Homo sapiens: one gene and its partners. The protein of the gene in region 1 interacts with the protein of each later gene in a biochemical or structural test. Each region holds a gene or a part of one and is shown in the gene's direction. Other genes may lie near its edges. The genes, in order: PDLIM3, RASSF6, ARHGEF16, PBK, ABCC4, MAP2K2 and SLC15A5.

Evidence for each region.
Region 2: the proteins of PDLIM3 (region 1) and RASSF6 interact in a test that uses a peptide from one of them, tested with the Homo sapiens proteins (one large-scale study listed by IntAct).
Region 3: the proteins of PDLIM3 (region 1) and ARHGEF16 interact in a test that uses a peptide from one of them, tested with the Homo sapiens proteins (one large-scale study listed by IntAct).
Region 4: the proteins of PDLIM3 (region 1) and PBK interact in a test that uses a peptide from one of them, tested with the Homo sapiens proteins (one large-scale study listed by IntAct).
Region 5: the proteins of PDLIM3 (region 1) and ABCC4 interact in a test that uses a peptide from one of them, tested with the Homo sapiens proteins (one large-scale study listed by IntAct).
Region 6: the proteins of PDLIM3 (region 1) and MAP2K2 interact in a test that uses a peptide from one of them, tested with the Homo sapiens proteins (one large-scale study listed by IntAct).
Region 7: the proteins of PDLIM3 (region 1) and SLC15A5 interact in a test that uses a peptide from one of them, tested with the Homo sapiens proteins (one large-scale study listed by IntAct).

The regions. Positions count from the first base shown.
Region 1 is NC_000004.12:185,517,954-185,522,373, reverse strand, and holds part of PDLIM3 (PDZ and LIM domain protein 3), read left to right. Parts: intron 1-4,420. UniProt on the Homo sapiens protein: May play a role in the organization of actin filament arrays within muscle cells.
Region 2 is NC_000004.12:73,609,867-73,614,286, reverse strand, and holds part of RASSF6 (ras association domain-containing protein 6), read left to right. Parts: intron 1-1,043; exon of another isoform or gene 1,044-1,157; intron 1,158-2,457; coding exon of another isoform or gene 2,458-2,491; coding exon 2,492-2,556; intron 2,557-2,610; exon of another isoform or gene 2,611-4,420.
Region 3 is NC_000001.11:3,463,746-3,468,165, forward strand, and holds part of ARHGEF16 (rho guanine nucleotide exchange factor 16), read left to right. Parts: intron 1-2,402; coding exon 2,403-2,448; intron 2,449-3,056; exon of another isoform or gene 3,057-3,169; intron 3,170-3,422; coding exon 3,423-3,592; exon of another isoform or gene 3,593-3,605; intron 3,606-4,420. UniProt on the Homo sapiens protein: Guanyl-nucleotide exchange factor of the RHOG GTPase stimulating the exchange of RHOG-associated GDP for GTP. May play a role in chemotactic cell migration by mediating the activation of RAC1 by EPHA2.
Region 4 is NC_000008.11:27,820,274-27,824,693, reverse strand, and holds part of PBK (lymphokine-activated killer T-cell-originated protein kinase), read left to right. Parts: intron 1-1,488; coding exon 1,489-1,631; intron 1,632-2,205; coding exon 2,206-2,375; intron 2,376-3,999; coding exon 4,000-4,129; intron 4,130-4,420. UniProt on the Homo sapiens protein: Phosphorylates MAP kinase p38. Seems to be active only in mitosis. May also play a role in the activation of lymphoid cells.
Region 5 is NC_000013.11:95,161,720-95,166,139, reverse strand, and holds part of ABCC4 (ATP-binding cassette sub-family C member 4), read left to right. Parts: intron 1-1,621; coding exon 1,622-1,762; intron 1,763-2,492; coding exon 2,493-2,530; intron 2,531-2,923; coding exon 2,924-3,018; intron 3,019-4,420. UniProt on the Homo sapiens protein: ATP-dependent transporter of the ATP-binding cassette (ABC) family that actively extrudes physiological compounds and xenobiotics from cells.
Region 6 is NC_000019.10:4,096,248-4,100,667, reverse strand, and holds part of MAP2K2 (dual specificity mitogen-activated protein kinase kinase 2), read left to right. Parts: intron 1-1,253; coding exon 1,254-1,467; intron 1,468-3,324; coding exon 3,325-3,389; intron 3,390-4,420. UniProt on the Homo sapiens protein: Catalyzes the concomitant phosphorylation of a threonine and a tyrosine residue in a Thr-Glu-Tyr sequence located in MAP kinases. Activates the ERK1 and ERK2 MAP kinases.
Region 7 is NC_000012.12:16,267,125-16,271,544, reverse strand, and holds part of SLC15A5 (solute carrier family 15 member 5), read left to right. Parts: intron 1-62; exon of another isoform or gene 63-1,632; intron 1,633-2,719; exon of another isoform or gene 2,720-3,250; intron 3,251-4,420. UniProt on the Homo sapiens protein: Proton oligopeptide cotransporter.

The DNA.
Region 1 (4,420 bases):
TAGGGCTTCTCAAAAATTAGAATAAAATAATACAAGCAGAGAAGTTGGCACATTGAGTTATTCATAGAAATACTCAAGTAAGTGGTAGCTGTCCTTATTATCAGTACGTTACCCCCACCCCAGGCTGGGATCCGAAAGTCTCCTGGCGTTTCTTGCTGGTGAGATAGTTAGCTGCCTACATGATAGGACATCCTAGAGGCTAGGAATGCCTTCTTCATTGCTATTACGAGGGTCGTGACAAATGGAACAAAGCTTTATTTTCAGTTAAAATATAATCTCTCCTGGAGAAGAAGGATCCTGAGTAATGTAATCTTTAGAGGAAATGAGTTTATTAGATTGTTGTCGTAGAGTTTTGACTAAAGGGAAGGTAGAGTCTGAATCTAAAATCCACTAAAAGCAAAAGTAGGAGAAAATAAGCCCCAAAAGGAGTGAGCAGGACAGAGAATATGTTCATGAAGGCAGGAACCTTGAGGCTGTTGTCTTCCCTCTGAGTCCCTCCAGCTCAATAAATAGCCCACAGCTCAATAAATAGCTGACAAATGGATGAAAGGAACTGGAGGGCCTAAAAATGAGCTGTGCATTTTCTAACATTGCCAGGACCTGTCCTGGGAGCCAGTTCTCAAAATGGTGTTCTGCCATCACTCTCAGCTGTTGCATGGAAAGTAATCTTGAAAGTTGAGTGGGGCCAGGCGCATTGACTCACACCTATAATCCTTTGGGAGGCAGAGGCAAAAAGATTGCTTGAGCCCTGGAGTTTGAGACCAGCCTGGGCAACATGGTGAGACCCCATTTCTATAAATTTTAAAAATTAACCAGGGCATGTTGGTACACACCTGTAAGTCCCAGCTACACAGAAGGCTGAGGTGGGAGGAGTGCTTGAGCCCAGGATGTCGAGGCTGCAGTGAGCTGTGATTGCACCACTGCACTCCAGCTTGGGTGACAGAGCAAGACCCTGTCTCAAAAAAAAAAAAAAAGAAAAGAAAAGAAAGTTGAGTGGGATACTTAGGCTAGGTAAGACTTTTGCTCTTTGGGGTAAGTGAGCAAAAGAAAATGGATGGCACAGATAATAAATATAATGAGAAGGGATCTGAATGCTGATGGCGACTCCCCCTGACATACTAGGTGGGCTGGTGAATAATGACACCTCTAGTCAACATTTTCTTTGCTAGAAGAAAATAGTGGAAGAAAAAAGGAAAGTTCTTGAGGTAGAGTTCTCACTTGTATCTAGCCTTTTGCAGAGATGCCCAGGCTGACCTGCTTCCTCCCACCGTCATCAATTTATCACCTGGAGGTGACACATGAGAAAAAGAGACTATATGGTGCTTTTAAGAATTAAAGTCAATAGACATGCACTTATTGACCACTCAGCCTCTTATCATTACCTGGACCAACCAGAAGGGACTCTGCATTTCCTTTTCCCTACACAGCACACATCCAATATTGCACTGCATCCTTTGCAACTTATTTTTCCATGCAAGAATTTCTCCTAATTTTTAAACCCAATTTCGTTAATATGAGATGCAAGAAATGAGGCCAACTAGATAGATCTGACCGAAGTACCAAATCCCCAGTGATCCTTCATCATGGTTGCATCCGTCACCCCAGCATGTAAGTAATTCAGCAAGTATTTACTAAGCACAAAGTGAGTTTAGACCAGGATGGGAGCCCACGTTTTGCTAACATCTCTCCAGAATTGGAGTTTAAGGGTAATTTTCCAAGTTGTAGCTCTAGCAGAGGCTTCTATTGCAAGTCTATGAGTATTAATTTATGACTATGGTTATTCTAAGGATGGGATTTTAAGGCATAATCCTAATTTTAAATACTCTGACCTCTTGTCAAGCATGTATTAGCCCTTGTGTCCTACATTTGGGGGTTAGAAAATATGAATATTTACAATACTACAAATGAGAAAAAGGAGATTAAATTGTTTTTTTTTTAAAGGTTGAGATTAGGTTAAGGGCTATAGCAGCCAGTCAGATGGAGCCTTGAAACATTCCATGACTTTGCGTCATGACTAATTCTTACTGACATCCTCTCCAAGAGGCCGGTGTTTGAAATGCTCCAAGATAAGAACAATTCAGTTCTACTAATGAACCAAAGGATTTCTACTCCTTATGAGACTCTTAGGCCAGATTTCTGCACGGCCAGTTTATGTAACTTGGTACTTCAGGACAGACATTCCCTACACAAAAATAACTAAATTGCAGTGTATCTCCTGCTATCCAAAAATCCTTTAGCGTAAACCAGAACAAAACGTGCTGATAAAAGTCAAACAGTGAGTTTCACTTGTGGACTGAGACGAGAGAAAAGCTAAGCTATGGTTATAGGGTTTTTTGTTTTTCTAAGTAATACAAAGCTGTGCAAAAAAGATGTCTTTTTCTTTTTTATCAAAATGACAACTCTGCAAATACAGCAATCTTCTGGACAGCAAATACGTGTCAGTTAGAGAAACAAATGCCATTAATATTATCATGCTTCAGGATGTCATTGCAGATGAATAGCAAAAGGCCATGGAACAATATGAAATTTGAGTTTTTGTTTCTCAACCCAAGTCAAACTTTTATTGTAAGTTATGTGACCTTTGACATTGGAATAAAATACACTTTCTCACTTACTTATTGGGGAAAAAACTATACCATCCAAGCCCAGCCACAGATATTAAATATTAGTATGTTTATTTCTGGGGGTTTTTTTCCCCTGTGAATAGGTTTAAGCTAAGGAGACATTTTCTTATATGGTTATAGGAATAGTTGATATAAAATTTTAATATCTAGATTTTTAAAATGTGGCCGGGCATGGTGGCTCACGCCTGTAGTCCCAGCACTTTGGGAGGCCGAGGCAGGTGGATCACCTGAGGTCAGGAGTTTGAGACCAGCCTGGTCAACATGGTGAAACCCTGTCTCTACTAGAAATACAAAAAATTAGCCAGATGTGGTGGCACACGCCTGTGGTCCCAGCTACTGGGGAGGCTGAGGCAGGAGAATCACTTGAACCCAAGAGGTGGAGGTTGCAGTGAGCCAAGATCGCACCACTGCACTCCAGCCTGGGCAACAGAGTAAGACTCCGTCTCACAAATAATAATAATAATAATTTTTCCATGCTATCATCAAATAGCTAAGTTTTGTTTCTCTGAGTTTAGACTTGAATCTTAGGCTTAAAGGGCACGTTAGTTGTTGTTTAGATCAACTCCCAGCACCTGAATAAATGCCTTCCATGCAATCCTGAACACAATCTATTTTTCTCTATTTTTCTGTACAAAAATAGACAAAATGGTCCATTTTTTAGTACGAAGTGTTGCTCTTGACTAAGAGTATGTTAATGAAGCTCTTTGTCCTTTTTCAAAGCTTACATTCTCAAACCATAACCCTCATATTTGCTTAATGTTAGTGGAACAACTCAAAGGTATACTGTGCCTGTCACAATACAAGAAAGATGCTTTCAGAAACAAAAATGGTTCTTATCTAAATAAGAAGAAAGCTGTCTCCATTTCCATAAAAAGGATTGCATCCTTGCCAGAGAAGATAATAGAGTTTACATACACAGTCAAGAAGAGTGTGGGATAAAGTCATTTTTATTTTCACAAATAAAAAGTGTTTTGGTAACTGGAAGGCAGCCCATATAAAACAAGCTTTCATAGTCACCATTTCCTCAAGCTCTTCCCAGTGAGAGATGGGAAACACTTGAAACTGCTCACTGGAGAAAAAAGGATGATGAGGGTGACTTTACTGTTTATTTGAGGGGTGAGTATGAGGAGGAAGTGATTCTAAACTTCAAACGTGATGAAATATAATTTCTTCATCATGCCTTGATCAAATATAAGATCACTTCATAGAGTTTGTTTCTCTTATATGCCCACCATTTTTTCATATATATATGATTTGATTTTATATACACATATGTATACATATTATATATAAATATATATGTGTATACATATATGTGTGTATATCTATGAATCAAACATACTGTTTCTGTTGGAGATGGTTCAGAATTATAAAGATTATCTGAATCTTTATCTGTGAGCAGTCTCCAAGTAAGAAGTTGAAAGGTGAAGCCTTTGACTGCTGTCATGTCTGAGGTCATTCCAAGGACATGGGAGACTGCTGTCCATGGTTGGATCCTCTTAACATCAGCAGAGTTCTGTCAAGTTACTTAGCTTTCACTGGGGCAGCTCTAGCATTCCATTAATTCAAAATGTTGTTCCTTAATATAAGCCTCTAACATTTAAAATAAAAATTTTAAATGTATCCATTAAGGGAATAATTACATATTGAATTCCTAAGAAATAAGAATTATTTGGGTGGTTTTTTCTAGATAGAATAAACACAAGAGCTGGACTATATTAACTGTTGTATACACTTTTTTAACTGGCATTTTCAGTTACTTGTGATTTTTCCAGGAAAAATAAAAATGAATTAAA
Region 2 (4,420 bases), about 110 Mb from region 1:
ACCACAACAGAGGGAGGCCCTCTAGTAGGCTGACGCAATAATCCAGGAAAAAGATGATGGTGGCTTGGCTTAGGGTAGTAGCAGTGGAAATCAAAGCTTTCGAATTTGGAATATGTTAGTGGTACAGTGAATAGGACTTACTTTTGGATTGAATTTGGCTTATGATGAAAGAGGGAAAAAATGAGACTAAATATTAGTTTTGATGCCTAGATGGGAAAGAATTGTGGAGGAGGAAATTTTAGAGCATGGGAGAAAGTCAGTGGTTCTTTTTCAGCCATGTAGATATCGAGATGCCTGGTACACATCTAAGTAGAGATTAGGTAGGTGGTGACATGCGTCTGGAGCTCAACAGAGATTATGGGATGGAGACAGATTCGATTACCTGGAAGAATGTATAGATAGAGAAGAAAGGATGGCTGAGAATGGACACTCAAACAAGCCAGTATTTAGTGATCATACAAAGGAGGAATCAGCAAAGGAGACTAGTGTTGAGGCCTGTGAGATAGCAGGAAAATAGAGTGAGGTGATTGTTATTCATGGTTTGTCTCAAAAGCATCAAGAAGAAAGTGTTTTAAAAGGTAGGAAAATCAATCTTGTCAAATGTTGCTAAGAGGCCGAGAAATGAGGAGAGAAGTGAACTCTTTGGCAAGGTATAGGCTCTTGGAACATGGATGGAGAGGTGGAGGTAGGGCTAAATTAAAGGAATATATGATAAATAATCTGGACCCAGGAGGAAGAAGGAAGTGTTTGGACCCCAGGGTCATCACTGGGGGATTTCAGTCGGGGACATTAATAACCCTTTTGGTGGGTTATTAGAATGACAAAATCCAGGGGCAAAACTCAAGTTTGAGAAGCTGGAGGAACCTGTGTAACCTGTATAACCAAGTTGCCCAGACCAAATCCTGTGAATAAGTAACTGGGATTCACTGGGCTCATGGAGCATGTTGTGTCTGTGTGCCCAAGGCAGCATAAAATGCCCATGTGGCTTCTGACGTATAGAATTACTTTGCCTGGTGACTAAGCTTCTGTGTCTCTGGTATGAGTCCTCCAGGTGTCCTGCATGAGACCTGCCAATGATGTGCTATCAGAGGATGCCATTTCCAACTAGAGAAGCACAATTCTTTGAGCAAGAAGATAGCAATAGAAAAGAAAGTAAGGTATAAATCAATAATGACAATACAAGGTAGAAAGCAGAATGATGACAACAGTGTGGATTCAAAGGACATGGGGAGACTTTAAGATTTCCCACTGGGGACTAAAAGGGACCAGATATCTGGACCTGCAGTGAGGAGGGCCCTCTGCTGCCAGGGGAAATGGGTGAGAAAAGACTCAATGACATGAAATTTCATTAGATTACAAGGCCTGGTGTTGAAGAAATGTTTCAATTTGGAGCCTGGAAAGGTAGGTTTGAGTGGAATTGAAGAAAACTTGAGAGTCAGGTTAAGGGACTTGGGCTGTATTTATTAAGAAAGATACCAAGATGGTTTGTGACCAAATAGGTGATGGGATGATCGGAATGATAAAAGCCTAAAATGAGACTCCAGCCAAGCATTCACCCTGAAAACTGTAACAAAGTACCTAGTGAGTTTAACAACATGCTATAAAGAAAAATATGCATCAGAGATTTTATGAGAATAGAAGAATAGCTTTCCTGTTTTCTTTTTTTCCTGGTACTCTGAAGAGTTAGGACATATAATTTCCTAATTTTTATTCATCTTACCCAACCCAAATAACCAGATTTGAAAGGAAAAGGAGGAAATCCACCCCCTTATACACAACGTTTTTTTTTTTAAAAAAAAAAAAAAAAGAAAACTGAACTCTCTCATCCATCTTTTTTATTCTGGCTCTATCCCCTAAAATCTTATAGACTTGGAGCCATGATAACTGAATATTCAATTTTTGCAAAATGGAATGAACAGAAAATATTATACTTTACATCTCTGGTCACACCCTAATGCCATTTATATGAACATATAAAGGAGGAGATTATTCACATCTGACCACAGTTTCCAGAGCTTGAAGGAGACTTGAAAAATATTACATCATACCTAATCAACTCTTCAAGTCAGAGCTTGATTTTAGCTGCCTAGAATTGCAGTTGTCTTCTGCTGATTGGGGCAAGGTTCAGCCAGTTTGGGTGAGTTATTGCAATAGAAGGAATATGCTCCCTTATACAGAATTATATAAATCAATAGAGTCATATTTATTTTGCTAGAAATATATCTAAAACAGACTTACCAAATTGTTCAATCCATCCGTGTCTGGAGTTACTGTTTCTGTAGTTTTTCATTTACATAATACATTTTTCTGTATTTTTGCTCACACATGACATACTACTTAAAAACTTTCTAAAACCTTCTTATACTCTAGAGACACAACAAAACACTCAACTTAAATCAGAAACTAATTTTTTAATGCATTATAGGAACAAATCATTAATATTATTCTCATGTTTAGGATATCCTCAGACCATCTCAAAAAGGAGGAAAAGATGACTATGATGGCTCACCAGTACCCCTCTTGGATCTTCATTAATGAGAAGACATTCATAACCAGGTAACCACACACCTTATATTATACATTGTCCTACTCACCAGTCATTTGTGGAATATACCGTCAAAGTTTTCTAAGCATGATGTATGGTCAACAAGATCAATAATATGAATCATCAGTAGAGATACTAGATAAGAAGTTGGAAAAGTATGTTCCTAAAGACTCTCAAATTTACTCTCATGGAACAATCACTAATATTTTGTTTAACAGTGGTTTTACTTTATTAAAAGCAACATTTCTGTTTTAATAGTTGGGATAATATTGAAGAGCAGCATTAGGTGAAAGATCTAAGGCTTCTCATAAATGATAGTTCTAAAGAATTAACCCCAGGGCCAAAAACATTATGTCCTGTCCTAACCTCTCCATCCCTTGCTCCTCATGACACTTTATTTTTACTGGTTCCCTCTTGACATTAGATTATGCAATATATGGCCAACATCCACAGCTTTTCTTGTACGCAGCAAACAGTATCTCATATTGCTTTGGGAACAATAGAGTAAGGGCTTAAAAGCTATAAGAGTAGAGATGAAAACTGAAACTGGCCAAGCTACAGCAGAGGCTGGGGGCTGAGAGGAGATGAAATCATGAAAAAATAAGTGGTACTGAAACATGACCCAAATCTTATGGGGGGTGGAAAAAGGAAAAAAGCCAAATAAATGACAGAGAGAAGGAGAAGTGAATGATGCAGGGTTGGGCAGTAGGAAAGTGAAGGAAACAAATATGATCAAATATGGAAATAAAGCCACAGCTGAAAGATAAGGATGAACTATAAGCAGTGGGAAAAAGACCTGATGCAAAGGATAAAGGATCCACTGACTTATTCCTCAAACACTTACTGATTACTCACTGTGAGCAGGTGTATTTTTGGACCCTGAGCATTCAGTAATGAACCAAACAAAACCCTTACTCTCATGGAGTTACATCATAAAGTCGGGATGCAGTCAATACATAAGATAAATGCTGAGGAAATGGAGTAAAGAGTGCTAGAGATAGAGAGCGGAAAGGGTTCTGATTGCATATAACCTAGTTCCTTCCTCAGTGAGCGGGAAGCACTGGAGGAAAAGCCTGCAGAAAGGGAGAAAGCAAGCCATGCAGCTTTCGCAGGTATTCCAGGCAAGGGGAATGGCAACTCCACAGCCCTAAGGCAGATGCATATTTGTAAGGGTCAGGGAGAACAGTGTGGGGAAATGGAAGTAGAAAGACAGCAGGAGAAGAAGCCAAATGGGCTCAGAACATGTAGGGTTTGATAGGCCATTATGAGGCTTGATCTTTCCCACTAAATAAGATGAGAAGCTGTGGAAGGATATTGAGCACATGAGTGGCAATATCAGTCTAGCTGCTGTGTTAAGAACAGAGTAGAGAGGGGACAAGAGTGGAAACAGAGAAGTTACCAAGGAGCTGACAGTCCAGGGTGGAGATGAAGGTTGCTTGAACCAAGGTGGCAGCAGTAGAGGTAGAAAACAATGGTCAGATTCTGGATATAGTTTGAAGACCAACACAATAGGATTTCCAGAAGGGTTAGACATGGGTGTGAGAGAAAGAGAATAACCAAGGATAATTCTAAAAATTTTGATCTAGAAAAATGGAGTTAACATTTTCTGAAATCATGAGGAGAAGCAGGAGCTACAGGAGGAGCAGGTTTGCAGTTGAGGATCCGGAATTCAGTTCTGGACACATTACATTTGAGATTGAATAAGAAGCATTTCTTAAAAATGAGGTCCATGGACCACCTGCTTCTGACTCAGATGCCTGTTCACAGTATAGACCCTTGGCTTCACCCCAGAACTAATCATGTGATTCTGATGCATACTGAAGTACTGAGAACAAATTCTCACCATAGGAAAGGATTAAAGTTCTGAGAACTTCT
Region 3 (4,420 bases), on another chromosome or scaffold:
GTCATCTTCTGCATCATGGCAGCTGCCGTTAGTAAGCACCTGCTGCATGAGGGCTCTCGACTGGTTTATTCCAGTTCAGCCCAGTCTGTGAGTGTGAAGATCCCACCTTACAGATGAGGCAGCAGAGGCTCGGAAAGGTCGAGGGTTCTACCGAGGCCCCCAGACTCTGGTGTCCCCGCTCCCAGCCTTGGTGGAGGGCAGATCCCTGGAAGGGCCCAGTCCCTGTTTCCGAGCTCTGGACAGGAGCCGGCCTGCCTGGATGATAGGGTTCAGGGTGACCTGGCTGCAGTGACTGGCCTGGGCTCCATCTGCCCCGGCAGCTCCAGACAGGGACTCAGGCGGGAGGGACTGAAGCGGGGCAGCTGTGCGGTGGCCTGGGGCTTAGGAGAAGTCTGCACATTCCCTCTGTACACAGAGCCCTGCTTCCCTGCCTGCTGGTGGTGGCTCTAGGTCTGGGGCATGGTGGCGGCAGACCCTTTGCTGGGCAGGGTGTAGCCTGACTGCATGTGTCACTAGGGCCCAGGGGACAGAGCGTCCAGCTGGGGCTCCTGGGCCCAGTGTCCCTCATCCTCGGAGTCACCATCCCCTGCGGCTGGGGGCCAGGCCTTCATTTCAGGCAGCCCTGGAGCTGGAAGCCACGTTCAGGGAGAGTTGCGTGGTACCTGGACACCCACCCAGCCAGGACTGCGACTCTGGCCACCCTGCTTGGTCTCTTTAGCTGGTGGGTCTGGGCTCAGGCAGGGCTGGGGTAGGGGAGGCGAGCTGCCCTGGAACCGCCCATCAGGAGGCCCTGGCAGCCCGAGCACCCTCAAGAATGCAGAGCAGATGCAGGGCTGGCCCCAGGGGCGTCCTTCTTGTTGGGCGCCTTGCTCAGACGTGTTGGAAAACAGGCCCCAAGCATATGGGCTGCCTCAGTGAAGGACGAGGGCGGGGGCAGGTGCTGTGTGACCCAGATGAGTTCCTGAACCTTCCTGAGCCTTGGCTTCCCCATGTGGAAGCAAAGATCACAGCCGCCCTCTGGGCATCCTCTGGGCAGTGTCCACGGAAGGTGTGTGCCAGAGCGTCTTCTTCACTGGTTGCCGTCCCAGCTGCCTCCTCAGGCCCAGCTCCTGCCCAGACTGGGAGTGGCAGTGCCAGCCTCAGGAGACGCCAAGACCACCTGTCAGAATGTCCCATGGGCGTCCACTGCAGGCCGATGGTGGCTGAGGTGGGGTCCCCCATGTCCCCAGCACCAGCCACTGTCCTCGGTCACAGCTCTCTCTTGTGCCTACCTGAGACGCCCAGGACTCAGAAATGCCTCAGCACCTCTGCCGCAGGCCCCTGCACCCCAGCAGCTGGAAGGGCCCCAGCACTCTCTACACCCACCAGGCCCAGGCCCATGGGGCTCCGTTCATTCATTCACTGTTTATTTCATGCAGTCAGCAGACACTTCTGGGCACCTGCCACATGCTTGGTGCTGGGGTTCCAAAGTGAGCCCACGGGCATGGGCCTGGTTCTCAGAGGGCCTCCAGCGCAGGGAGAATGCCGAGGGCTGGGCTGAGGGCAGCTCGGGGGTGCTGGGAGCACAGAGGAGGGGGCTCCCCATGGCCTCGGGTCAGGGTAGGGTCCCGGAGGAAGGAGGGTTAGCGCAGAGGCAGACAGGAGGAGAGGACGGAGTCGGGGTGGGGGAGGCAACAGCTCCAGCCAGACCTGGAGGCCGAAGGGGGGCTGGGGGAGTCCTTGAGGTGGGGTGCGGGGCACGGGGCTGAGGGTGCCAGGCCAGGTACAGCTGGGAGCACCACACACTCCCAACCAGTAAGGGGAGTTTACAGGCCCCAACTCGTTCCGAGAAATCAGCCCCTTTCCTTCCGGGAACCAGCATACCTGTGGCGTCAGGAAAGTGTGGTGTCCCAGCCGAGGAGGGTGGGCTCCGAGTCGGGCACCTGAGCGTGGGGGCTTCCCAGGAGCCCAGCCCTCCCGTCACTTCTGCCATCCCGGCCTCCTGCTGGGGCCCCCAGACCCATGCTTGGGGCTGGACACTGGCCAATCCTTGCTCGTCTGTCCCACCAGGTCCTAGTCCCCAGGGGCCTGTGTCCTGCCCCACTGTCCCTTCACAGCCCTCTCCCAACCTCACCTGCCCTGCCACGGGCCTGCTCGAAACTCTTCTGAGCGTCCCCTCACGATGAGTTCAACCCTTCCTCCTCCTCCAAGCAGCCCTCAGTCACGTGTCCTGCCTGCTCTGAGCCCTCCTCCCACCTCTCTTGGCCTCTGCTTGGCGGCCGTGAGGCCCTGTGGAGCTGACATCTATTGGGCACAGCTTCGCATGTGGAGCCGAGAGGTCTCTGGGGTCCCAGGGCAGAATCGCCGTGGGCAACACCTGCCCCGGCTGACAGCTGCGGTTTCTGTGTCTCTCTTTTGTGCAGAAGACGCTGGGGAGGAAACGTGGGCACAAGGGTTCCTTCAAGGACGGTGAGTGTGGCTTCGGGAGGCACCGCGGGCTGGGCTCCAGTTGAAACTGGTCTCACTGGGGCACCCTGGGGTTCGGGTGGGCCTCAGTTTGGTGTCTCGGGGTCACCAAAGCTGCTTGACAGGGTCCTTCCAGAGGCTGAGGTCCCAGTGGCTGGTCTGTTCATGTAGCCCTGATGAGTCTAGAAAGGTCTAGAAAGTTCCCTTGGACTCTATTCTGTGTGTTCTGAAGGGCAGGGTACAGACAGAGCCCCCAGTCTTGCCCTGAACACCCCATGTGTGTGCTGGGCCCAGCCTACAGTGGCCGTGTTGGGGGACCAAGGCCAGATCAGAGGGCACCGGCCCCACACCGCGGGCTCTGCCCGGACTCTTCGAGGCTGAAGGGGAGCCATGTGTTGGGGCCTCCAGCATGGGTGGCGGTGGTGCACACTCAGCCTGCTCGGGGGAGATGAGAACATCCCACAGGGAGGTTGACATAGGGAGGTGCCTGCTACCTGGGTCCAAATGCCCGGGGGTGTAAAGAGATTAGAGGCAATGAAGCCCGGGGAGGGCTAAGGCCTCGAGTGCCCAGCTCCAGGCCTGAGGCTCCAAGACACAATGGCCCCTTCCAGCCCCCAGAAGCTTTGTGGACAGGCATGGGCCCAGGAGGGGGTACCCAGGTCTCCTCTACGGAAATCCCTGGGAAGTGTCCCCAGGAGGCAGCAGCGATGCCCCACGTCTCAGGGTAAGGCTGGTTGGGGGCTGCTGTGAGGGTTTGGAGGCACCCTGAGCCGGGACCAGCCCATTTCAGGTGGGACTTGTGGCATAGGAGAGGTCTTGGGACTGGTGCCCAGCCTGGGGCAGTCCCCTCCCAAAGCCTCCCTCTCCCACACAGCCGTGAGAGCCTGTGGGCCTAGAGGACTCAGCTGGCGGGTTGCAGGGAGGCGCAGCCTTTTGCAATCCCCCAGGGCCACAGGTTACCCTCCTTCTCTCTCTAGACCCCCAGCTCTACCAGGAGATCCAGGAGCGGGGCCTGAACACCAGCCAGGAGTCTGATGACGACATCCTCGATGAGTCCTCCAGCCCCGAGGGAACCCAGAAGGTGGACGCCACCATTGTGGTCAAGAGCTACCGGCCCGCCCAGGTCACCTGGAGCCAGCTCCCAGAGGTAGCGCCGGAGGGTGGGTGAGGCTGCCCCACAGAGGCAGGGAGAAGCCACAGTCCCCCTGCTGTTCCTTCCCCAAGCCCAGGCGGCTGGTCCCCAGCAGCAGCCCAGTCCTCCCAGGGAGGGTGGGCAGCCTTCCCAGAAGCCCCTCGGCTGTGGGTGGCAGACCTGGGGGTCTCCCTCCTGTGCCCTCAGAGTCACCCTGCCCATGCAGGGCCCTGCCGTCGTGCGTGCGAGGGCCAGCCCTGCTCAGACTACCCTTCAGGGAGCTGCGGGCGCCAGGAGTCCCTTCCCAGGGCCCCCGCCCCAGGAGAGGGCTGAATGATCTGCGTAGGGAGACAGCTGGGATGGGAGGGGCCGGGACTTGGAGCTGGGGCCAGGGCCAAGACACTCCTTCACTTTCCATATCTGAAATTGGGGGCCCGTCCCTGCCCTGCAGGGGTCTCAGTGGAGAGCGTGGCCCGGCATTGGTCCCCATGCTTGGGGGAGATGGCTGCTCCTACCCCAGGTGGACCGGCATGTGACCCGCACCCTGAGGCCCAAGGGAGGGGACCATGTGGCCGTGGGCGTGGCGGGCAGCGGGGAGGGCGGGCCCCCACCTGTGGTACAATGGGGCTCCTTGTTCGCCATTCAGAGGGGCTGGCACTGCAACCACCCACCACACACCATGGTGCTGCGTACCCTGGGACCCCGGCCAGGGCAGGCCCAGCGTGGGGTGAGGGCAGGCAGCGGGCAGCCTCCCCACAGATAGAAAGGCCTAGAAGTGCAGTCTTACTCTCCTGCTGGGAGCTGGGGGCGTGTGGTCTCCCTCTGTCGGGGATGGAGTCCAGT
Region 4 (4,420 bases), on another chromosome or scaffold:
GTATAAGATTGAATGGTAAATTCTTTGAAAGCTTAGTAAACTCACCTGTAAAATCATCTGCACTTTGTATTTCTAGTAGGAACATTTTAAACTGGTGATTAAATTTCTTCATTCATCAGTTTTCTTAGATTTTTCTAAGTCTTTGACCATTTTGTCTTAAATGATTGCATAAAGATTTTATTTACTTACATATTTTTTCTCTTGTATCTGTAGTTTTGTTTCCATTTTTATTTGTGATATTGTCTTTATTTTTTCTTGTGTAATCTCATCAGAAATTTGCCTTTTTTCTATTAGTCTTTTTAATGAACCAGCTTTTTGCATGGTTGAGTATTCAGATTTCATAAATCTATTCTTATTCGATAGATTAGAATATGTTATGGAAAAGGTGAAGATTGACTTGTTTACTAAATTCTAAACTTTCAAGAGCTAAACTTTCAACCCTTGAAATTTGAAAAATATATTTTTCATAATAAAATGATATGCAGGTGCTCATCATTATCCTCAAATGCTGCTGTTATTTAAAACTGGAGGTTTAAGAATAGTTTAGATCAACTTACGGATGATAGATGTACATGAATTAAGAAATCTTGTGATCCTTTTAGTATAGGCTTTTTGATTAAACAAAAAAGGTTCTGCAGTCTTAGAGCTATACCTGTGAGGGAGTCCAAAGCTAAACAGATCTTTGATTCAATCTCTTGTTTTGTGTTCTTACCATTAAACTTTCTGTCTTAAACTTCTGAGGCTCTTTCACTAGGTTTTGTGCTGTTATGCTGCATATACTTAAGTATTTTGTGATTTGCTCTACTCATAAATATCTACCACCTCAGGTAAACCTTTCCCTGACTTTATTTTACCTATTTAGGCCTTAAAACATTTATACCTTAAATATTTGTAAAATGGCTGAATCTTCCTAGAAAATAGAAAGTTTAAAATTTTCTCATTTGTATGTTCATCATTATCTCCTTAAGCACATATCTTTGAGCATGTGGTAAAAGGTATAAGGTGAATTGGTCAGTGTAGGGGAGCAATAAGAACAGCATGCTGTTCTTTGGATGATGATATATGGGTAAAATGTTCTTGATTATCTCTTCTTTAAATTTCCTAATGTTTTTTTCTTCAGGATCCTATAACTCATCTCTGATACATATAATTAAATATTTAATAAGTTGTAGTCCAACATGCTCAAATGGAAAAATTGGAAAGTTACAATTTTCAGGTTTAAAGTTTGTAACATTCCATCTTTACCCTTCAAATTCTTTTCATCCTCTCCCTTCCACAGTATAGATAGTAAGACTTGTTTTAGTATATTAGATCTTACCTCCCAATTGAAATGGAAATGTAGCAGAGGTGTTCATAGTCCAAACTATTTTAAATTCTGTTTTTAAAAGCAAATTTCTTTCAAGCTTTTTCCCAAAAATTTGGAAGTCATTTTAAAAAGTATTGTGGTTTTATTGTTTTCTATCCTTTTTAAATGAATTTTTTTCTTAGATCTCCAAGAGGTTTGTCTCATTCTCCTTGGGCTGTAAAAAAGATTAATCCTATATGTAATGATCATTATCGAAGTGTGTATCAAAAGAGACTAATGGATGAAGCTAAGATTTTGAAAAGCCTTCATCATCCAAACATTGTTGGTACGTTTAAATTTGGTAGCAGTATCTGGTATATTATTTTGTTTATTCAGAAACAGCTTATATGCTCTCTTAACTGGTTTCACTAATAGAAATGAAGAGGATGGGGCTGGATATTTAATGGGTATCAAATTAATGTGATTGGTCTAAAATAAAAATTTGCATATAGTATTTTTTGATGCCTAAGTATATAAACTTCATGAGAACAGATATAATAATTATGTTGCTAGTTCTATGAAGATTTTAAGAATATAAAATGATCTTCATTTAGATAATTTAAATCCATTTAGGTAATTTCCTGGATTTCATTTTTCATTTTTAATACAAGTAGGGCTGGTGAAACTATTATATTTAGGGAAGCAAAGGAAAATAAAAGTATTTTAATTTGTGGTACTACTGGCAAACACTGAAGGCATTTTAAATGAGATCTACTGAATTAGTCTTGTAAATAGTAGCTGTTTCATTGTATATTTGTCAGCGTTAGTCCAGATCCATATTTTCAATCACGTTACTATAAAGGACTTAAATATTATTGTTCTTCTCTATATTAGTGAAGAAATGTCATGTTTTCTTTAAGGTTATCGTGCTTTTACTGAAGCCAATGATGGCAGTCTGTGTCTTGCTATGGAATATGGAGGTGAAAAGTCTCTAAATGACTTAATAGAAGAACGATATAAAGCCAGCCAAGATCCTTTTCCAGCAGCCATAATTTTAAAAGTTGCTTTGAATATGGCAAGAGGGTTAAAGGTAACTATGTCATTATATTTTAAATGACTTCTGTTTTTGTTCATATTTTAAATGAACAAATAATCACTTTGCAGGACATCTTTGAATGTGGATGGATATTGTTACTTGTCAGTTCCAAAAAGGGGTTAGCGGAAAACAAAATAGAGGCTTACATTTCTGCTTCCAAATTACATTCATGTGTAGCTTAATATGTTCTGAGAAATGTGTCATTTGGCAGTTTCATCACTGTGCGTGCGGACATCATAGAGTGTACTTACACACACCTAGATGGTAGAGCCAACTACACACCTGGGCTATGTGGTATATATAGCCCAGTTCTCCTAGGCCACAAACCTGTATAGAATGTTACTGTACTGAATACTATAGGCAGTTGTAACACAGTGGTAAGTACTGTGTGACTAAACATATCAAAACATAGAAAAGGTAAAATCAAAATATGATATTATAATCTTATGGGACCACCGTCGTATATGTTGTCCATCATTGACCAAAACATCCTTATACGTACATGTGGCCCTAGTCATTCATTGTCCCACATGGTCTCAACAATTTATGTATGCTTCACTGAAGATTCCAAAATTATTTCTAAAAATTACTAGACTAGCCTCAAAATTGTGGTATCTTTTGAAATCTGCAGTTGTATCTTCTGATATAAAGTATGTAGGATTAGTTAACTTACCAAGTTAACCAATTTATAAGTATAGTTAACTTATAAGCTGTCGGTATATATACATACTTATATATAAAAATAGTTAACTTGGCTGGGTGTGGTGGCTCACGCCTGTAATCCCAGCACTTTGGGAGGCCAAGGCAGGCAGATCACGAGGGCAGGAATTTGAGATCAGCCTGGCCAACATAGTGAAACCCCATCTCTACTAAAAATACAAAAATGAGCCGGGCATGGTGGCGGCACCTGTAATCCCAGCTACTCGGGAGGCTGAGGCAGGAGAATCGCTTGAACTTGGAAGGCAGATGTTGCAGTGAGCCAAGATCGCGCCACTGCACTCCAGCCTGGGCAACAAGAGCAAGACTCTGTCTTGGAAAAAAATAGTTAACTTATAATTATTTATTTTATAAGTATAAAAGGTTAGCAGAAGTATCTATTTCTAAATAAACTTTTAGACTTCTGGTCAGTATGGCAGACTGAGATAACATGGGATGTTCCCTTCTCTTGTTTCAAATACTTTGAAATGCTGGGCACAGTGGCTCATACCTGTAATCCCAGCACTTTGGGAGACTGAGGCAGGCGGATCACTTGAAGCCAGGAGTTCGAGACAGACCAGCCTGGTCAACATGGTGAAACCTCGTCTTTACTAAAAATACAAAAATTAGCCAGGTGTGGTGGTGCCCGCCTGTAGTCCCAGCTACTTGGGAGGCTGAGGCAGGAAAATCACTTGAACCCAGGAGGCGGAGGTTGCAGTGAGCCGAGATCGTGCCACTGCATGCCAGCCTGGGCAACAGAGTGAGACTCCGTTTTAAAAAAAAAAAAAAAAATTTTGAAACGCTGGACAAATGTAAACCTAGAGTTTAGGAAGGGAGTTCAAGTTGTTATATTTGGAGGTTATCACATTTTTTTATTAGTTTGTGTTTCTGCACATATGTGTTAAATTTTTTACTATTTTAGTATCTGCACCAAGAAAAGAAACTGCTTCATGGAGACATAAAGTCTTCAAATGTTGTAATTAAAGGCGATTTTGAAACAATTAAAATCTGTGATGTAGGAGTCTCTCTACCACTGGATGAAAATATGACTGGTAAGTTGTACTCTTAAGTTTTAAAATTTTGTTTTTAATACAGTGTTTACATTTTTAAATACGTAAGTCCACATGGATCAAAAATCAAAAACTATTTTTAAAAAGTATATGGTAAAAAGTCCCCTTTTTTTCTCTCTCTCCCAGTCAGCCTGCAGTCTTCTCCCTTGCCACATGTACAGTATAAATTACTGTATTATTATTAGTAGTAGTATTAGTATATATTTTAACTGGAGTTATCTTTGGGAAATATTTCTAACTGGATTGGGATCTTTAAGCAGTAAAGCATCTGGG
Region 5 (4,420 bases), on another chromosome or scaffold:
ACAACATGGCCTGGTTTTGTTCACTGTTAATGGCCTTATGGATCTTTGGTCTACTCTGTTCAAAGCTTCATCTTTTGTCCCAAAGTGGATTCTGTGGTTTCAGGGCTCTATTCCATGATATTGGTAGATTAAAACGGAACCAAGGCAAACCACCCTGGTTGGAGTTATCCTTTGTATGTAGGCTGGGGAATGTCAAGGAGGTGAGTAGCGGGTGTGTATGCTGGTGCAAGTCCTAAGCTGTGTGTGACTCACACTAATACTACAATTCTTGAATTTACTGTAGTGAAATCCTACTTAGTCTGGTGGCCCCCGACTTCTCTTTGCATCTGGAGGCATAATTTGAAGACCCCCTTAGAGAAAGTCCTGCTGTGGGCCACATGAAATTAGCCACTTTTCCTGTATGTTGGAATGTTCTGATGCTGCAGGTGGCTGATGGAGGTATTTTGCCCTGTTGTCAGATGGTTTATGTTAGTTAGGCCAGAAGTAGCATGTGCAAAGACCCAACAGTTCCTGACACACAGCAGCCCAACTTCCTTCTTTACCTTTCAAGAATAGGAGCTGCATCTTACTCACCTTGGTGTTCCCAGTGGCCAGCATAGAGCTGCTCAATACATCTTCAGAGTATGTGAATCTCATGCCTTCTAAGTCCTCCGGGCAGAAATGTACCAGAGCTCACTTAAAAGCATAGATATTCCTTGCCACACAAACCCTGACTATCCAAATCCAGGAGACTGAAGGATTCTTGCAGATATTCAGATTAGGCCCTCACATGCCAAATTATCAGGAGTCAATTTCTGAAACTCAGGAACCAAATAGATTAGGATCATATGCTATCCCTTCCTTTCCAAACTCTGGTTACTGAGACTCACTGCTTGACCCCAGTTACTGTGTTGAGCTCATGTTTTGACCCCCTGCTCTTTTATGTTTCCATCTTGAGTGATGCAGTTGAGAGTTCCATATCTTTTTGTATATGATTTTGGAACAAGTTTCTGTATTGACACTTGAATTTGGGTGTGCTAGGTAAGTGCTGAACATCCTGATGGCATCCTTCCAGCAAGCCACGCCACAATGTCCAAATGATATTTCCTTATCTCTAGTAGAACCTTGAAAGTGGGATGGCTGGGTCCAAGGATTAGTGCATATAGCTGGGTGTGGTGGCTCATGCCTGCAATCCCAGCGCTTTGGAAGTCCGAGGTGAGAGGATCACCTGAGGTCAGGAGTTCCAGATCAGCCTGGCCAACATGGTGAAAACCTGTCTTCACTAAAAAATACAAAAAATTAGCCAGGCGTGGTAGCAGGCATCTGTAATCCCTGCTACTCAGGAGGCTGAGGCAGGATAATTGCTTGAACCTAGGAGGCAGAGGTTGCAGTGAGCCAAGATCGCGCCACTACACTCCAGCCTGGGAAACATGAGCAAAATTCTGAGTCAAAAAAAAATTAAATAAATAAAAAATAAGTGGATGTATAGTTTGGCTAGCTATTTCCACACCCTTCTCCACAGGAGATGGATCATTTTGGACTTCTGCCTGTTTCCCCACAGCTTTGTCAACAGAGTGCATTGTCATCTTTGGGAACAGTTTTGTATACTGTTTTGTCTCTTACCACCTTTTTTCCTCTGCAGACAGAGAATGTCCCAGTTACACTATCAGAGGAGAACCGTTCTGAAGGAAAAGTTGGTTTTCAGGCCTATAAGAATTACTTCAGAGCTGGTGCTCACTGGATTGTCTTCATTTTCCTTATTCTCCTAAACACTGCAGCTCAGGTAAATAATGACATTTGTTTTGCGCCCTCAAAATGATATTTACAGTACCTATGTTTATGCTATTATGACTGCATCTTGCAGTTCACTTGGGGTCTGAATTGAAATGTGCTGTCTTTGGGGAACAAAGTGAGGGCTGCCTACTGGTGTTCCATGTCCGTTACAAAGACCTGCGAAAAAAGGGTATCTTTCAATGATTTTAAAATGGAATATGCATTTTCTTGAACCCTTGATATCTGGGAGTTTGGGCTTGGCACAGACCTGAGCTGGAAGAACTATGCGAGTTCTCTGAGCCTTTTATTCTTTCTTTCTTTCTTTCTTTCTTTTTTTTTTTTTTTTTGAGATGGAGTTTTGCTCTGTTGCCCAGGTTGGAGTGCAGTGGCGCGATCTTGGCTCACTTCAACCTCTGCCTCTGGGGTTTAAGCAATTCTCCTGTCTCAGCCTCCGGAGTAGCTGGGACTACAGGCACATGTGCCACCATGCCCAGCTAGGCTAATTTTTGTATTTTTAGTAGAGATAGGGTTTCACTATGTTGGCCAGGCTGGTCTCGAACTCCTGGCCTTAAGTTGATCCGCCTGCCTCAGCCTCCCAAAGTGCTGGGGTTTACAAGCATGAGCCACCACGCCCGGCTTTGAGGGCTTTCTTTCGGTTGTCCATGTTAGCGATTGAGAGTTTTGAGTTGGTAAGTCATGCCCAAGTTTGATTTTTGTCTTTGTTGTTTCTCCCCTCCTAGGTTGCCTATGTGCTTCAAGATTGGTGGCTTTCATACTGGTAAGTTATTTCTGGTCTGATGTATGAAATACTCCAAAATCAGTAAGAAGACTCGCTTTTCCATAGAGTTAGAGGGAGGTGTTTGTTGATCCTTCTCTTCTAATCCTCACTTCGTTTACCCGAAGAAAAATTAGAGTGCTTGCTGGTGGAGTGTAAACTGCGGTGGTCTCCACCCATGTCTGATCCGCGGCATCATGTTCACAGACAGTTTCGGGAACTGAAAGTTGTGATTTAAATTGAATTTTTATAAGGTAGATATACACAAGACTAAGTGAGCTGAGAATCATTTTCCAGCATGAAGCGTTTCTCCCAAATTGTGGTTCATTTTTAAAAAAATGTATTTATCTAAATTTCATATATAGCTTAATATTTTTTTCTCCCCATGTTCCATAGGGCAAACAAACAAAGTATGCTAAATGTCACTGTAAATGGAGGAGGAAATGTAACCGAGAAGCTAGATCTTAACTGGTACTTAGGAATTTATTCAGGTAAAGTTTAATCATTTGGTGTATTGTATGAGAGGCTGAGGTGCTTACAATGAGCCTGTGTGAGTAACTAGGGCTTCCAGGAGTCATTCAGTAATGTCTTAACAGATCAGGAGTCTCAGTCGAATTTACTCTGTGAATTAATTAGAATAATTATTTTAAAAATCTACTAGAAGAGAGGTTGACTGAAGACTCTTAATTTGCTCTGTACTGGATTTTGAAAGTTAAACCAGGATTGAGCATTCAGAAAATCAGCCACTGGAAATATGTGGCTATTGTCTATTCTAATAGGTTGCTTTAGCTAAATCTTATATCATTATACGGATGGGCAGGGGGATTAGAAACGGATCTCCACCCTGTGGTTCGGATGGTTCCAATTCTGTCTAAATAAACCCTGGCTTTTATTGAACTTGGATGAAATCCTCTGGCAGCAAGGCCCCCAAAATAAAAGCATTATTCCCTCCCAGGTATGCAAAGCTCCCTTCAGCACTGCTCATCTCCTGGGCTTCACTAATTACTTAAGAGGGAAGCTGAGCAGGGAAAAATCCAGTGTCTGGGAATTAGGATGCCTTCTATTTCTTACCTTGAGATCACAATGTTATCGCGTCCCCAACTGTGTGATTAATTTAACATTTGGCTTGCCAGACTAATATTAACGCCACACTCTGTTTTCACAAGAGTGCTTAGAATGTATGTAGCATTACATACTGTTTAAAGAAAATCTTCATCTAAAATTTTAAATATTTCCACAGGAAATGCTCCTACAAGCTTTCCTCAGAGATAGAGTGAGTTATCTTTGTAAGAACCTACTCAGTGAAATTTGGTGTTTATTTCATCGATCGCTTGCTAAGAAATCTAAATCTGTTAGGTGTTTACCTTCCAACTGATGGACTATGTGGAAACTAAAGGAAGAAGGAAATCTATTATGTTCTATTATGTTCGTGTAGGATGGCAGGCTAAGGATAATGCCCGTTGATGGAGTTAGGAATTTGAGCTGCTTTCAGAGGTTAAATAACAGTGACATGTCATCTGAAAGGGAAATATTTGTTATAGAAGTTACCCCCACTGTATTTAGCATTGTGAATGAAGAGATGTTAGGAAAGCTCTTTTAATTTCTATGTGAATAATGGATCCTCATTCATGTCTTAATAAAATGTATGATTTATTTTATTCATTTAAAAATGTCTTGTGTCTATGTAAAACAGTGGGGGATTAGTTGCTTATTTAGATTAATTATCTTATGTTAAAATATAATTTGTGTTTTCTTGCAATTCAATTATTCAAGAGGTTTTCCACATGCAACTTAATACGGTATTTTTAAATTCTTTAAAGCTACTTGGGCATTTTCTACAAGGAAAAGGTAAATCATTTCTCCTATTCCTTGTTAATATCACATGTTGGTATC
Region 6 (4,420 bases), on another chromosome or scaffold:
ATTTACTAATCTTTTGTAGACACGGGGTCTCGCTGTATTGCCCAGGCTGCTCATGAACTCCTGGACTCAAGTGACCTTCTTTCCTCAGCCTCCCAAAGTGCTGGGATTCCACTAGCAGTGAGCCTGAGCCACCACGCCCGGCCAGATCTCCCCTTCCTGTTGGAATTCTCTCTTAGGTTTTTGTCTCTAGCAGTGCCTACCAGGTTTCTTTCTTTTTTTTTTTTTTTTTTTTTTTTTTGAGACAGAGTCTTGCTCTGTCACCCAGGCTGGAGTGCAATGGCACAATCTTGGCTCATTGCAACCTCCGCCTCCCACCCGGGAGCAATTCTCCTGCCTCAGCCTTCCAAGCAGCTGGGGCTACAGGCATGTGCCACCACAGCTGGGTAATTTGGTTTTTGTTTTTGTTGTTGTTGTTGTTTTTTGAGACACAGTCTCACACTCTCACCCAGGCTGGAGTGCAGTGGCGCCATCTCCGCTCACTGCAAGCTCCGCCTCCCGGATTCACACCATTCTCCTGCCTCAGCCTCCCGAGTAGCTGGGACTACAGGCGCTCGCCACCACGCCCGGCTAATTTTTTGTGTTTTTAGTAGAGACAGGGTTTCACCATGTCAGCCAGGATGGTCTCAATCTGACCTTGTGATCCGCCCGCCTCGGCCTCCCAAAGTGCTGGGATTACAGGCGTGAGCCACCGTGCCCGGCAGCCTTGGCTAACTTTTAAAAAAATGTTTTTAGTAGAGATGGGGTCTCGCCATATTGGCTAGCCTAGTCTTAACTCCTGGGCTTCCACCTCAACCTCCCAAAGTGCTGGGATTACAGGCATGGGCCACTGCACCCGGCCCTTAGTTAATTTCTGGACCAAGGAATTGGAATCTGGGGTCTTTCAGGAAACGACTGGGGATTCAGCAACCTGCCAAATTGAGCCTTGGAGCAGCCTCTGAGATGTTAGCTGTGGAGGAGGAGGCCCCTGCTTCCTGGGGCCCATCATCCATTCCCAAAAGTGCTGAGCATTGCAGGCTCTTCAAGAGCTGCGGTCAACACCAGCTCCAGGCCTCGGGCTGGAAGCCTCTTCAGCAAGTGCCGCAGGGAGGCCCTGGGTGGGTGAGCCGGGAGGTAGAATTGCGTAACAGCTCTCTATCCATTGCTGCGGTCATTAGCCATGGAGAGGGTGACGGGGGCTGTAACGGGGCAAGCCTCCCGGGTTCCAGCTGCCATCCTCGCCCCTCTGGGCTCTTTCCTCCCTGGCTCTGCTGCAGCCGGAGCGGTTGCAGGGCACACATTACTCGGTGCAGTCGGACATCTGGAGCATGGGCCTGTCCCTGGTGGAGCTGGCCGTCGGAAGGTACCCCATCCCCCCGCCCGACGCCAAAGAGCTGGAGGCCATCTTTGGCCGGCCCGTGGTCGACGGGGAAGAAGGAGAGCCTCACAGCATCTCGCCTCGGCCGAGGCCCCCCGGGCGCCCCGTCAGCGGTACGGCCTGAATCTGCAACTTCCGGTCTGGACGCGCAGTGCCCTGCGCGGGGCCTGCTGTGCCAGGGTCAGCAGCTGCCTCCCCTCTGCCCCTGGCGCACCACCTGTCCCCCTGGATGGTGCCGACTGTGGTCAGCAGTCCTCCCATGGTCCTGGGGTTTCCGGGGACAGAGCTGGAAGCAGTGAGCACCCCAAACCTGTTCTGTCCGGGGCAGCTGCACCTGTTGTTGCCAGCTGGAGGGATCTGGGAGCGCAGCTTTGCCACCAAGCCCCTGGGCAGTTGGATTTTCCAACATTTTATCCCGAAAGCATTCAAACGCACAGAAAAGTGGAAGGAATTGGCCGCCACAGAGCCTGCATTCTGCAGGTGACACGCTCCTGTGCTGCGGGCCAAGCCTTCCAGGGAGTCCTGAAGTGGAGATTGGACTTGGCATGGCCCTCAGTGGCCTGTTGGCTCCGGCCCCAACACACACAGGAGGGGACACAGCCCGGGAGGGGGCGGGAGGGCTCAGGCCCCAGGGACAGCTGGGCTCGCAGAGGACAATCCGGCACTTAGGGCGGGCACCTCGGGAGCGGGAGCTCCCTGACGCCAGTCAGAGAGGGCCGAGCGGACACTTCCACCGCCTGAGGGAAGAGCCGGGGGCGGACCCTGCTTGGTGCAGAATCACAGGAGGGTCCTGTGATTTTTTTTAAAGTCAGACATCAGGGAGAGTTGGTGGCGTCAGACCCCAAAGGACCCTGTAGCGGACTGTGGTTGGTTTTAAAACCATGTTTCCGAACTACAAAGCACACACCCCACAACTCATTTCAGGTGAGCAGTTCAGTGGTTTTCAGTCACAGTGCTGCGCCCCATCACCTCTAATTCCAGAACCTTCTCAGCTCCCCAAGAGGAAACCCTGTCCCCATCAGCTGTCACTCTCCATCCCCTTCCTGCCTCTGGACTGGCCTGTCCTGGGCATTTCACAGAAATGGGGTCACACACTTGTGTGGCCTTCTGTGTTTTGTGTGTGGCTTCTCTCCTGGAGCGCAGTGTCCTCAAGGGTCATCCACGCCATGGTGCGTGTCAGAGCCTGGGTCCTTTTGAAAGGCTGAGTAGTATTTTATGACACGAACAGGCCACGTTTTGTGGTCCTACCCGGATGGATTGGGGCTGTGAGAAGGAGATTTTCATAGCACTGGCAAGCCCACCTCCTCCTCTCCAGCCAGACTGCTGGGATGTCTTGATCTCATCCCAGGGAGAGGCCCCCAAGTCCTTATCCTCAGGCCTAGCCTCAGCCTCTCCCAGTCCCAACTCTCAGGTGGTATACCATCCCCAGCCCAGGGCCCCAGCCCACCTGCCCATTTCAGGACGGGCAGAAGGCGAAAGTCCAGCTGCCAAGCCCAGGCCTGGCCAGCTGGTTCTCAGACAGGGGTCAGCCACCCCTAGCCAGTCTCCCGTCCTGAGTGGCACTTGGGGCCTGCCCCCATCACCGCCAGCAGCTCCATGCAAGGTCACGCGGCTGTCCTTGCCTGCGGTCAGCACCGTCCCTCCCCCTGCCCTCCAGAGAGGAGGGGTGATGACTTTGGCACGTCCGGCAAGCCTCACCGAGCCAAATGTGTGACTTCTCAAAAAATGTTCTTGTTCCTTTTGCCTTTTTTTTAATTCACTAGAGGCTCAGGCAAGGAGTAGCTGTCCCAGGGAATGGAACCCAGAGTCAGGCAGGGGAGCTTTGTCCAGTGCCTCTGCACACCCGCCTCCAATTTAGGCTGGCATGTGGAGGAGGGCGCCTGGTGGTGATCAGCCCCCTGGGAGCCCAACCCCCAGCAGAAGTGAGGTGGCCATCGGCCCATCTCACCTCCATCTCTCTCCCTGTGCAGGTCACGGGATGGATAGCCGGCCTGCCATGGCCATCTTTGAACTCCTGGACTATATTGTGAACGAGGTTTGTGCTTGATGCCTTTTGGCTTTTCTTTTCCTTTTCTTTCTTCTTTCTTTTTTTTTTTTTTTTTTTTTTTAGGCAGAGTCTCTCTCTGACCAGAGCAAGAGTCACCAAGGCTGGAGTACAGTGGTGCCTTCTCGGCTCACTGAAACCTCCACTTTCCAAGCTCATGTGATTCTCGTGCCTCAGCCTCCCGAGTAGCTGGGATTACAGGTGCGCACCACCACACCCAGCTAATTTTTTTTTTTTTTTTTGAGACATTGTCTAGCTTTGTAGTGCAGTGGCTTGATCTCAGCTCACTGCAACCTCCGCCTCCCAGGTTCAAGCAATTCTTGAACCAATTCCACGTGTGTCGCGTCTCCCATCTTCTACTGTGCTGCACAAGCCCAGCTCCTTCCCAAGGGCATTGTTTTTTTATGAAGACGAACCCAGAATTCCCACCGCAGCCTCTCACCCTGAGTCCAGAGGGAGGTGTGTGCCAGCAGCCCTGGGCTCAGGCCGAGGAGCCAGCCTGCCCCTTGAGCAGTGGCCCAGTGTCTCTGCATCAGAGCGTCCTGGCGCCCGTGGGCGTGGACTCATAAATCACCCCGCTTCCACGGAGAAAGGTACAGGAATGGCCCTTGCCTCTTGGAAGGAGGCCCAGAGAGCCTAGAAGGACCTGTAGGTCCCGGGGTGGCTCCTGCTCCGTCAGTCCCCATAACAACCCAGTGAGCCACAGTATGAGGGTTTCCACCGCCCAGATGAGTAAAACAAGGCACAAGGAGGGACGCGGCCTCCTTCCAGGCCTGCAGCTGTCAGGGAGGCACAGGACTGCACCCCAAGGTCCTGTTGGCCACGTGACCAGGCCGGGCCACCTCCCTGGGCCTTCTGTGGGTTTCTGTGTCTTTGGTGGCCCTTTGGAGCTGGGGCAGAGAAACGGGCATTTGAGCTGCCTGCAGACTGGGCTAGGCCTGGGGTTGGGTGGCGAGATGATGACGGAGCCAGGTGGGGTGGCCCTGGTGACCCAGCTCTCCCTGCACCTAGCAGCCACACCC
Region 7 (4,420 bases), on another chromosome or scaffold:
TTACAAAGCACTCAGCCCTATTTTGGATTAAGTCCTAATGTCAGAGAACAATGCAGTCTTACCAAAGGTAGAAGGGACTCTTTACTTCCTTGCAGCAAATTCTGCCTCCTTGACCTGCCCAAAGGAGAAAGAAAAATCCTTCTTTTTTATTCTATTCGGAGGTTTTAATCCTTAATTAGCAACATCATTTTGATTAAATAAGACTCTGGAGGATTAAGACTGGAGAGCAATCAGTTGTTCTGAAAGATAGCTCTGGAGAATTTATTGTACTGTGGTCTTAGTCATTCAGAGTTGTGTTTAATCAAAGTGACATTTCTCAGTGTTGATTACAAAGGAGACATTATATGAATGAAATATTTCCTTTGGGAAACAGAGGGGACTCCCACTGGGTGTGTGCTTTAGGGCTTCAGGAAGGGGGATGGGGAATGGGGTGAAAATGAATTTCTGCAGCTGTAAGGAACCAGGCCAAATTTAGGATGAACATATTTAGATTTTTAAAAATTATTTTCTGATTTCACTAAACAGCTCACTATTTTAAAAATTTAAAGCATCTAGAAATGTGTATAAAGAATCAGGCTGTTATTTTTTAATGTGATAAAAGAACTGGATGGTAAGATCCTTGAAGGCTGAATCTGGTTGTCTTGCCTTTTTTTATTTTTCCAGTTTAAATACTAAACTACAGGCCAACTTTTATGAATGTTCACTTACCTTACTGCAGTTTATAGCAATGAATGCTGATTCCATTCCTGTACACAGTGCGGGGGCTGGTGACAAGATGGACAGAGACTCCACTGGGCAACCAGACAGCTGGCAGAATCCTGGCTCTGTCACTTAGGAGTTTTATGGTCTTTGGCAAGTTCCTTAATTCCTCAGAGCCCCAGGTTCCTCATCCACAAAGTGGGAATATCTTGGAGAGCTATTGTATCACTTATATATAAAGTATCCTAGCATATTATAGGTATCAAATTATGATAGCTATTGTTATGATTATTGCTAAATCATGGATAAGCCATCAGCTGAAACCATTGTCTAAATGCTGGGAAAGAGGGAACCCATTTAGGAGGAGGTCATCTTTGAAAGGAGCAGTTTATTAATGTGTAATCTATGTCTTCCAGTCAAAAATGCCTCTAGAAATTACAAGACTGGTAAATATAACGAATTTCAGCCGTGCCTTTAAAAAACAACATACCCCTTGAATCTGTAACCACTTGAAGGCTTTATTCAGTCCTATTTGCAGCACAGATGTCAGATGTTCATAGTTATGGGACCTTTAATGAGATGTGTCATTGCTTCTATACCACCTAAAGCTTCCCAATGATCATGTTAAGTAGCATAGACTGGAAGTCTCAGGCACTGAAAGCACCACTTCCGAGTAAAGCTGCCAAATGTAGGTGAGAAAACCACTCCCAGCCAACATTACCATCTGGTACTGGATCTTCCTCAACTAATGCACCTCACTACAAAAATAAAGCTAAACTCCCTGAAATCAAGAGACATAATAATCTGCCAACATCCTTGTGTCATTATCCAGATCAGAGCCTGGCTTTCCACATATTCCAAAAGCTGAGATGGACAATTAAGAATCGCCATACTGGAGATCACCTAGGTAAATACACCTGTGCAGATTCTTTTCTGGAAGCAAAAAGAAGGAGGATAATGAAGTCTGTTCCTGGCCACAATTTTAAATTCTACCACAATTAACCTCAAATCTTGCTTCTGCATTTCTCTACTTTCTTCACCTGATAATTTGCATCCTATCTGCATATCACAGTCTGTTGCTAAGGGGTTACTAGGGTGAATTATATACATGATTAAAAGCCCAAATAGAATATTGGTAAAGTTCTTGAAGAAAGTCTAGAGACTGACTTATTTCACCCCAGAAATGTTGACTATCTGGTACTCAAATTGACTCTACATGGTATCTGAAATATTCTGATTTTAACACTTACTCAAATTAAATATATTTTATCTTAGGGAAGCACTAGAGGTAAAAATGTATTATCCCACAGCATTTTTCCAGAATCTATTTTAATATTCACAAGAACATTGAGAACAATGATTGTCAATCCTAGGTGCATATTAAAGCCACCTGAGGATTCTTTTTTAAAAAGTACAAATGCCTGGGTCCTGCCACCAAAGATTCTGATTACATTGGTTAGAGGTAGGATCCAGGGACCAGGATTTTTTAAAGCTGCCCAGTTAGAGTTGAGAACCACTGTTCCAACGCAGTGTTGCTCATTTTAATTATCACTTGAGAACCTTGTTGAAAATGTTTCCCAGGTCCCACCTCGAACCTCCTGGATCAGAATTTTCTGGGAGGACAGGTGGGAAATGCATATTTTAAACAAGTACTGTCTTAGTCTATTCAGGCTGCAATAACAAATCAGCAGAGATTGGCTGGCTTATAAATAGTAGAAATTTATTTTTCACAGCTCTGGAGGCCAGAATTCTGAGATCAGGGTTCTGGTGAGGGTTCTCTTCCTGGCTGTAAGACTGCTGGCTTCTCACTGTGTCTTCACATAGTGGAAGGGGCAAAGGAGCTCTCGGAGGTCTCTTTTATAAAGGAACTAATCCCATTCAGAAGGGTTCCACCCCTATGAGCAAAAGCCCCACCTCCCAAATACACCACTCCCTAATACCATTGTTATAGGAGGTATAACACCTAATACCAAGTTAAGATTTCAACATATGAAATTTGAGGGGACAGAAATATTCCTACCATATCAAGTACTTCAGGTGATTCAGAAGAACAAAGTTTGAAAACAACTCCAGAGCCATAAGGAAAATCTAGTGATGCCTTTGAAAAGAAATGAAACTAATCATTGATTGAACCCACTACTGTGTTTCAGACTGCTTTGGAACTTTCTGACAATTTTATAGCAATTATCTCACATTTAGAAATCTGCCTGATTGAGAAATTCAACATAATTCTGAAAAGAGAGAGAAAAAAATATAAATCTACATATACTCTTCAATCGTAAAATCATAATTTATAAGGTACATTTCAGCAAACAAAATCAAAGCAGTTCATGAAATAATCTTATTAATACTCAAAATGTCCTTTGAGTTGCATGCTGAGGAGTAGTAGCTTGTAAATAGCTATGAAAAAATCACCAGACCTTCCCAAATTCTATTTGCACTGGCTCTAGCCAAGTTTAACAAATGCTACCCTCTCACCCTAATAACAACAAGCACTTCCTTCTTTACCTTTGCGATCTGAGCTCACTGCAACCTCCGTCTCCCGGGTTCAAGCAATTCTCCTGCCTCAGCCTCCCAAGTAGCTGGGACTACAGGTTCATACCACCACGCCAGCTAATTTTTTTGCATTTTAGTAGAGATGGGGTTTCACCATGTTGCCCAGGCTGGTCTCAAATCCCTGAGCTCAGGCAATCTGCCCACGTTGGCCTCCAAAGTGCCAGGATTACAGGCATGAGCCACAGAGCCGGGCGCATGTTCTCTTTTAAGCTTGAAAGGTACATGAGTCAGGACAACTGTTAAAATTTGGGTGTTGGCCAGGCACAGTGACTCACACCTGAATCCCTGGGCTCTGGGAGGCCTAGGCAGGAGGATCACTCAAGGCCAGGGGTTCGAGACAAGCCTGAGTAACCCCATCTCTACCAAAAAAACATTTTTTTTTAATTACCCAGGCATGGTGGGGTGAACCTGTAGTCACATGTACTTGAGAGGCTGAAGCGGAAGAATCGCTTGAGCTCAGGAGGCTGAGATTACAGTGAGCTGTGAACACCCTGCACCAGTCTAGTCTGGGTGACAGAGTGAGACCCTATCTCAAAAAAAAAAAAAAAAAAAAAAAGGTGGGGGGTGGGCGGGGGTTGTTGGCAAAAGAATGAGGGAATGGGAAAGGAGGGAGAGGGAATGGGAAAGGACAGAAAGGGAATGAAACAGGTTAAAGAGTAAGAGAGGTAGGGAGAGCTTGGGAGAGAGAGTAAAGCAGTCCCCCAAATTTTTAAATTAAAAACTTAACTTCTTCAATCCTAATGTCTAGTTACCAAAATCAATATTTTATTAAATTGTCTTTAACAGCTCTGCTGGAAAAAAAAATATGTATTTACAGATAAAAAGGAACTCTAAAGTTTCTATTTTCCCCTTCTTTCTCCAAATATTTGGCTGCCAGAATATTCTTTGAAGTACTTCAGTGGCCAATGGTTATGCTAAAAGAAGCAATGATTGACAACAGCCATCCACCATGAAATCGGTGCCCAAGTATTTTATTTCACTGACTCCTCTAAACAGTTCAGTTTTATCCCACTGAAGAGTCACAAATCCCCTGGAAAATTATCTGAACATTGATCAATGTCGAATAAAATACTTTCTCTGGAATATTTAAATGGTACACTAATGCTATGAAGACCTGAAACTTATAGAAAATTTGCCTTCTTTCTTTGATACTGTCTCAGATTAG